Regions from separate parts of the Homo sapiens genome. Here region 1 is linked to region 2. The links come from fine-mapping of genetic effects on gene expression. A gene starts in region 2. The other region holds a variant in brackets. All regions are shown on one strand. Distances are from middle to middle. Region 1 has its middle 17 kb from the start of MIR6827. Region 2 holds the start of AMOTL2 (angiomotin like 2).

Region 1 (4,381 bases), 23 kb before region 2:
ATAAGTGCGCATGCCCATATTGTTTACCTGGAGGCTTATGATGGGTGTTTGTGGCAGGTGTGCATGTGGACAAGCCCATGAGTGTATTTCATGCCTGTGTGTTTGGTGTGAAAGTGTATGTATGCATGTGGTGTGCATGAGCAGGCGTGGAAGTGCATACAATGGAGGAAGGAATCTTCATCTTGCCACATGTCTCCTGTGCCATATAACCCGGGCTCAGATGCAGAAGCCAGTCAGATGGATAGAAACTTCCTCACAGTCATGGCCCTGTGCCTATAGATGCAGAAGCAGGGCTCAGACCACGTCCTGGGTTAAAGCACCTCTTGTGTTCAAAGCTGGAGGTAGATGCACTGAGCACAGAAAACAATGTCATTTTATTAAAAGAATGGCCTGTGTTGTGAGTGACCCTCATATCAGGTGTTGAGAGCTGGCTTGTAAAGAAAGAAGGTTCTGAAAGGAGAGGAGACCAGGTAGAATGTAACTGTGGCCCCACTCAGGATGCTGGTGGGCCTGGGATGATTTGGGGGGCCTTTCCTTCACAGGTGTCCCTCCTACAATGCTCCCTTGCTTCCTGCCCCTGCCCTTCGCCCCTCAGCGGGGCTTCAACCAGTTGAAGTCCAAGTTTATAAATTCTCTTTCCTTTTATTAAAGCTTCTATCTGGAATGCGCATTTCTCAGTTACACACATGGCTCACTCCCTTACCTCCTTCAAATCTTTGCTCAAATGTCACCTTCTTAATAACGCCTCTTTAAAACTGCAACTCTCCCGCAGCCCCACCACCTTGCTTCAAACTCCTCATCCCTCTTGTCCTTCCCTTTTTTCCCCCAAAGCTCTTGTCACCTTGGCACACAGTGTGGACCAGCACTGCAAGAGGACACACATACAGAAATTGAGGGGATGCATTTGGAAGCTTCTATGCTATAGCATCTCTAGCTATGGGATCTCTAAATTTGATATTGCTCAGAAATCCAAATGCAGATTGAAAAAAAACAACTGATTTTTCACCACAGAGAGTTTAAGAATTATTGTTCTCCCATACTCTATCAAGTTTAGTTTCCTGTTTGTCTTCCCCCACCCCACTCCTGCTAGAGTGAAGTTCCATGGGGCAGGGATTTTGTCTGCTTTATTCCCCATTGACTCCCCCCAGTATCTAGAATGGGTGTGGTACATGCTGGGTCCTTAATGGCTATTAGTTGAGTGCGTACATGTGCAAGGGGAGGTCTGAGAGGTGAATATCTTTCAATGGACAAGTGGTGGGATGGCTGCAAAAGTTCAACCACAGGCCCCTGAGCTGACCACACTGTTCCCAGGACCACGCCTTGACGGTCCAGCTTGGGGGCTGCAGGAAAGAGGCACAGGACTTGAGCACAGGCCTTTGAAAATGCTGCCCCAAGTAGAGGTACACTGACAGGTGTGAGGCCAGAGTCTTTCTTGTGGCACAGGACAGGTCCTCCTTTCCCATGAACTTGGGAACAGAAGGGGCAGGGACTGGGAGACAAATGCTGCCATTCCCCAGAAGGCATCACCAACCTCTCCCCCTCCCTTTATTGTGGTGCTCTGGCTTCCAGGGAGGAAGGGGTGGGAGGTTGGCACCTAGGGATGGCATGGAGGCTCTGGGGAAGCCTTTCCCTGGACCTTGCCTGGCTCAGATCTTTGTGGCCTTGATCAACAACCCCTGTGAGTTGTTCTTGGGACCCAAACACTACAAGGCATGGCTGGGAACTGCTGCCCTGATAACAAGTGTTTCACCCCACCCTTCCCTTGCTGCTGCCCCTGCCCCTATCCTCTCCCAGAGGGAGCCCAGGGCTGTCAGGGCCAGGCAGGAGAAGCTCCAGGCAGGTGCGGCTCTCCTAGGGGTGGAGAGAGTTCTGATTCCGCCTGCTGTTCCCATGGCTGGGGCTGGCTACTGCCCATGTGGCAGTCAGCGCCTGGGCCTGACTCAGGGACCAGCCATCTGGCAGGGCCAGTTCTGGGCTCACACACCTACCTCCAC[C/T]TCCACCTGCTCATTCACTCTGCTCCCCAAGCCCTCGGGCTCAGCTTCTCCTTCTCTGACCTGAAGACTCCACCCACAGAGTCCCTTTTATCCTCTCCCACCTCTCCCACTTTCAGTGAATGGCAATGGGGGATGGGCACCTGGCCAAGGAGGAAGGGCTTGGGAACTTTGGTCAGAATATCCTACAGGGCTACTGATCAAGCAGGGCCACCTGTGACACCAGCGCAAGGACAAGAGTAAACACCTGTATAATTAAAAAGCTCGGTTACGTCTTTTTACCTGTGGCTCCTTCTGACCCAAGAAGAGCTACAGACTAATGTCTGCTAGCAAGAGTTCCTTCATTCTGCACATCCCAGCTGTCCTCCCCATCATGGTCCTGTGGGAGCAGAAAGGAAGCTGGAGAGGGGAGGCTGCCAGGAGGAAGCGATGTTCAAGCTGGAGGAGAAAAGAGATGAGAAAGGCATTGCGAGGAAAAGGATTGGGATGTGCAAAGGCCTGCAGTTCAAAGAGGCCACAGTGCACTTGGAGCCATCCCTGCGTGGTTTGTATGGCTGGGCATGCACAGAAGGCTGATGAAATCCGGAGCCCCTGGGAAGGAGGCCTATTTTTCTTTTTTTTGAAATGAAAGGTCTCATGTATTTATTACGGAACCCAGCCAACCAGAAAGTTCCTAACAGATTCAGAGAGAAAAAGTATATTCCCAAAAAAACATGTCCAACTGTCCAGATAGTGGTGACATTTTCAGCTTGATATGGTAACATGATTGTGACCTTTAGACAGCATAAATATGTGTGCCATCTCATGTTCAATTCCTTACAGACCTAGCTTGGTTCTTTTCCAATGTCTCCTCTTGGAGTTGTACCTGATTTTATTACCAGTTTTCATCCGAATCCACTGGGGAATGGGACGATTTTGCTTTTGTTTCTTGGCCAGGAATTGCTTAATCTTGAAAGTCTTGTGAGAAGACATGGAGAGAGGCGGAGCCAAACACACACTACAATGGTGGAGAAAGGAAGAGAGAGGGGCCTGTTTTTCTTTTTAAGTTAAAAAAGGTTATTGTGTTTTCAAGGCAAACCTAGCCGTGGTTTTTGTAGTCACTCTATGGTTGAGATTTTGGTATTTTTGCCATAATGCAATATGCTGTGAAGATTTCCATAGTACACTGTGTTGAGCAAGAAAGGCTTCAGAAGAGAGACTGGGCAGGGCTCTTTTCAAGGCTCCTGAAGCTTCAAAAGAAGGCCAACTTGATGCAAGAAGAGGCAAACCTGTGCAGGGAAATAACCAAATTATTGCCCAACACACCTGGAATGTGCCCCCAGGTAGGAGCCTTTGGACTTGCAAGAGGCATTTATCTCAGGACAGATCATGACACCAGGTTGGCTCAGAATCAAAAGCTGATGGGCCCACAGAGTAGAGTAGAATGTGTCCCTGTTGCAATCAAGTGCAAGTGGCATGGCTCTCCAGGGCACCGAGAGCCAACTGTCAGATGTGCCCCACTCCCACTCCTGCTGGGGGCTGGAGGTTTGGCTGGTGGGCGAGAGCAGGGTGCACATGAGAGTCATTTACAGTTTGGTCCTCAGCAAACTGGTCAGCCCTTTCATCCAGGCTCTGTGGTGATAACCCCATCCTGCGCCTAGACCGCAGGCTCCCTTTGTGGGTACCTCCACCCTACAGAGGGGGCTGTTTTTAGTGGATATCCAGTACCAGCCACTTCATCTGCAGAAGAAAAACTGCAACTTCATTGACTTCCAGATCCAAGCCTCACCTGGGAGAGACAAGGATGAACCCAAGTCCTGGGTACTTCCCAGGGCTCCATTCCCATCAGGGAAACACAATGCCCAATGCCCAGACAGACAGATTTACTGTGAAGCTAATGAATCTTGTACCTCGGGGTGCTCACTTGAAGAAGCCCCTTCCAAAACTCTAGATCTAATTTTGTATTCACCACTTTGCATTCTTTTTCTTCAAGAGGGTCCTCCAAATTATACAGGCTTCAGGCCTCACAAAATTGGACCGACCCCTGCCAATTCTCCTTGACTCTGGCAAACCTTAGCAAACATGGGTGCCTTGGGCTCAGGGCTCATGGGCCTCCTTTCCAAACCTCAGGACCTCCACCCTGGCAGCCTAGGGAATGAAATGTGGGAGATTCCAGCTCAGAGCAGATAGTGTCCTGGCTGCAGCCCAGCAGAGGTACTCTGGGGCTGCTGGGCCCAGGATGGGTGAAAGGGGACTCTCTGCAATAGAAAGTTCAAAGTGTCAGCCTAGGAAAGAGGAGCCGACAAGTGTGAAGGCAGCAGATCCAATAACACTTCTAATTGTGTCCACATGGCCCACTGGTGGGGCATTTGCTGATGACCCGTGGTTGACCGCTGGCTTAAAGTAGATGC
Region 2 (4,381 bases):
GCGCTGCTGACAGAATGAATCTGGGGCTCCCTGTCATGGGATGACCTTGGCAGTCATTCTGCAAGGTGAACAGGAAGAAGGAGTAATTGCACCTGAATTGGTGAATAAAGGATGAATAAAAATGCTTCAAGAGGACAATGGTTTTGTAAGATGAGGCAAAAAGGTGCCACCCATTAAGGTTAGTGGGTCAGTCTTTTGTGCTGACAGTAACTGCAAGAGAGCTCCAGGAAAAAGGAAGGATGGCATGATGTCTTTGATTTTATGATTATCCTCCCCAACACACACACACACACACACACACACAAACACACACACACGCTACTTGGAAAAGCCCCCACTGGTCCTCTAGGCACATAAGGGATGGGCACTCAGCATCTTTCTTGACATCAGTGTCAAGGAAGCCCATCTTGACTTGGGCCAACTGGAGAAGTAAGGGGAGGCTGTTGGTTGAGAGACCTGGGGCAGGGGAGAGGGGACTGTGAGCCTAAAGTGCTGGGAGATTATATCGGAGAAAGGAGTTCCCTTCTAAGCCTGGGCTCCCAGTGGTTCATGGACTGGAAATCTGCCTGCCTCTCTCACCCAGCTTCCTTTCCACAGCCTCTTCCAACACAAATCTCCAAACTGGGATCCAGGGAAAACTAAACAGAATCCACACTGCCACAGGTCCTGTGTGTATGGGCAGGGGTTGGGGGGGTGGGTGGGAGGAATGTGGCCCCTCCTCTGCCACTAAACTAGCCCTAGTGTCCTGCTTCAGTTTGGGCTATGGCATGTTGGCAGAGCAGCCATTCCCGATCTTTTCCCTCTCCCCACCCCAGTACTCCAGCTGCCCAGAGCTGGGGAGTGGGGGATGAGTCTGGAGGGCACCTCTGTACCCATCCTTCCTGGCACCCAGTCATGCGCCCCCCACACACAACGAGGGGTAGATGTGCAAGACTCCAGAGCTACCCGAGGCAAAGCAAGCAAATGGGATTCAATTCGTATGGGATTCAGTTCGCCCTGGAGTTTTATCTGCGGGCATTTCCTATGATAATCACTCTCTGGGCCGACTCCCACAGAGAAGGCAGGGGAGCGGCAGGAAGGAATGCGGAGCCTTCCTGACAGATTCCAGGCGCTCCATAGTGTGCCCGGACTGGGAGCAAGGAACATCTCCAAGGCCTCTCATCGCGAATTTGTCCCGGCCAAGCCCCTCAGATTCACGTCCTTTCAGACATCAAACGCCTGGGCCTTTACAAAAACCTGCTTCCGCGCCCCCGGCCGCGAACCTCTGCTGCACTCGCCCGCTGCGCTCTCTGAAGGCCGCCTTTCTAAGCCAGCGCGCGTCTCCAGCCTTGGCCTGGGCTCCTGCTCGCCTAAGGAACCAAAGACAGTCTCCAAGCTAGGAGGTTCTGGCACCCCAGCCAGGGCTCCCGCCCCACCACGAGCCCGGGCGGACCTGGAGCACCGGTGGCCGCTGGTACGCCTGGGGCGAGCCGGTGAGGGTAGCCCGAGGCCCGGAGAGGTCTTTAAGCATCGCGGGTCCGCCTCCCTCCCTCTCGAGCCCTCTTTGTTTTCCAAATACTCTAACGCTGACGTCACCGGGCTGGACAGCAGGCTGCATTCTTTCTAAGTGAGGGCCAATTCGTGGCTCCAGAGAGGATTTTCCAAGGAAGACAAAGAGGAATTCTTGGACTAGTTGGGGGCAAAGGCACCTGTAACCCCCACCTAACCAAATCAGCCCGCAGGACCCTGCAACTTGAGCTCCAAGCGGCGCCTCCATCCCTGTCCCCCGCCACCCCCACCCCCGCCGACCTGCAACCCGAAACACTGTGGCTGTTGTCTCCGGAGTCGGCCCTCTCCCCTCTCCCCCAGCCCCAAGAGACCCGCGCGTTTCTAGAGCCCCGCAAAGCCCAGCGCGCTGCGCTCCCTGGGCAGAGCGGCCCTTGCCAGGCACTGCGGCTGCCTCGAAAGGGCGCACTGCGCCCCGAGGACGCTCGATCCTCGAGGCTCCGACTCCCGGAAAAGGCCGGGTTGCGCCGAGACTCCAGCTTTGGCTGGGGCACGTTTCTGTGGCCTCGCGCGCTCTCCCGAGCGCCGAGCGGCCTTCCTTACCGCTGCGGCCCGAGGGTGCCCAGCGCAGTCAGACACCACAACCTCCGGCTCGGCCCAGCTCAGCTCGGCGGCGAAGATGTGTTCTCGGCCGTGGCGCCGACGCTCTGGCTGTTCGCGCCCCAGCGCGCAGCCCCAGGGTCGGCCCGCGCCGGAGGCGGCTGCTATGCCAGGAATGTGAGAGTTTCAGGTTCCCCCTCGGGATCAAAGCGAACCACAAATAACCTCTCAGCGCACCGCCCTCCTCCGCCCTCCGCCTTCTCCCGCTCCCTCCTCCCGGCCCCCGCCTTCCTCCGGGGAGGCGGCGCTGCTGGCCGAGCGCCGGCCCGGCCCCCGAGCTCCGTTCCTCCGCGCCCAGCGCCCTCCAGGCCGCGGTGTGTCCGCCCCTGCCCCATGCTTTGCCTTCGGAGCTGCTGGAGACAATTTAATCCAACTCTGCCCATTATCGCCTCCACTCCCAGTCGCCGACCCGCTCTCACCCTTCATCCCTAAACCCATCGACGGGACGACAGCAAGGGCTGTACCACGCGTGTCCTGGGGTTGCTGCGGGAGGGGACTCCGGCTGTGTGTGTGTGTGTGTGTGTGTGTGCGTGTGTGTGTACCGGGGGAGGTGGGAAAGGGAGGAGGGACTGCAAAGACATCCATATCCTCTGGGCTGGGACAGTGCCCCGGGCTAAGTGAATGCTTCCAGCCACAGAGCCTCTTTCCCCTAACCCCCGCTGTTTTCACCCCCAGCGGCAACCTTTGAATGCACTTTTGTTTACAAACACCTTCGCCAGCTATTTTACGACCGTCTCGACAGGAAGTGTGAATCTGGGTTGGAAAATCCGGTCAATTTGACCCACCTACCCAACTGAATCACCCGCCGCCAGGCGCTCTGTCCAGTTCTTCCCCAAGGTGATAATAGGCGCCCCTTTACGCAGAGTGCAAGGTGTGCCACCGCTGGCTTTTCGCCCAGTCATCCGATTCAGCCCTGCCAAGCACCCTCCAACGGAGTTCTGTTATCATCCCTGTGTTGTAAATGAGGACACCAGGGCTCAGAGAGCTTAAGCAGCGTGCCCAGAGTCACACACAGTGAGAACCAGGTAATCAACCACTGGGCTGCTTGGTTTCTCATTCTCAAAACCCCTCCCTGGCTATCAGAATCCAGGCTCCCTAGATGGACAGGGCAGACACTGGGAGCCCTCCTCTCTCCACTTACCCTGTCCTTGCTTTAGTCTCTTCTTTACCTCCCCCTACACCCCTGCCAGCCAGGGGCTTTCCCCTGTACCCACTTCTGTGGCTCCTGCATGGAATCCTCTCCTCTGCCCCCAGGACACTTCCACTGCTAGATGGAAACCCCTTCTTCAGAAAGCTCGCTCTGACACATGCTGTCCCCGTTCCCCATCACACAAGCCCTCTCTACAAGTCAGTTGGGGTGAGGTGGGGGCAGTCAGGCCCCTGTCCACCCAGAGAGTCAGGGCTGATTTCTACCCCTGGCTGGGTCCTCCCATCAGCATGGAGTTTGCAAGTCCCAAATTCACTGGAGGGAAACAAGGACAAGGAAATTCTGCAAGCTTAATTGCCAGGGACATTGTTAATTTTTAATAAAACTCACAAAAAGTGTGTGTGTGTGTGCGCACGTGTGTGTTTTACTTGGAAGTCAAATACTGTGTTTCAAACAGTGATTGGATCTGAGATGATTGAGCAAATGGATCATTTGTGCCAAGCTACGGGATATTTGTCTTTCCAAGGATCCCCTTACGAAGAGAAGCTGTGATCAGTATACCACTGTAGGTAGGAATTTTAGAAGTGAAAGGAAAGAGGTCTCTGAGTGGCCTTACCTTATGGACAGCATAATTGGTGGAGGCAGGGGAGTGGTTGTGGACATGTGCACTCGGGTTGTAAAACCAGGGGAAAGACCACATGGTACAGTCCTGTCTTTCAGGCATTTGGGAGGATACCTGACAAAATGTTTGACAAATATTCTTGAGATGGTTGCAGAAAGGCGTCAGTTCAAGGCAGCTAGGGTGAAGGAGGTACATCTTGGAGTGGACAAGCCTGCTGCAGAGCCACACAGGCCCCCATGATTGCTAATTTCTGTCCCCAAAGGGACAGAAGCGGGAGAGGGATCCCAAAACCTAAATGAGAAATGTGCATGTACTTTTATTTTTCCTTTCCCTTTCTCTCTGCAGAAAGAACAGAAGGCAAGATCTGTCAGGCATGGCCTGCGGTGGAGCCTACCTAAGCTGGCGGCCACCCCAGCTCTGCAGGATAGTTGGTGGAGAAGGTGACCACTGTTCAGATGTGCCAGAGG

Evidence for each region. PIP is the estimated chance that this variant, and not a neighbour inherited with it, causes the effect.
Region 1: its variant is the best candidate, but not a certain one, in a credible set for the expression of AMOTL2 in esophagus mucosa (GTEx, PIP 0.55).

Annotation. Positions count from the first base shown.
Region 1 is chr3:134,349,126-134,353,506 of GRCh38, forward strand. It overlaps the pseudogene RPL39P5. Among named protein-coding and RNA genes, the nearest start is that of MIR6827, 17 kb to the right of the region's middle. The variant C/T (reference allele first, on the strand shown) is at 1,995.
Region 2 is chr3:134,372,254-134,376,634 of GRCh38, forward strand. AMOTL2 (angiomotin like 2) reads right to left here and starts at 2,194. Exons shown (of 10, transcript NM_016201.4): 1 at 2,089-2,194. RefSeq lists enhancers at 1,454-2,253, 2,254-3,053, 3,054-3,851.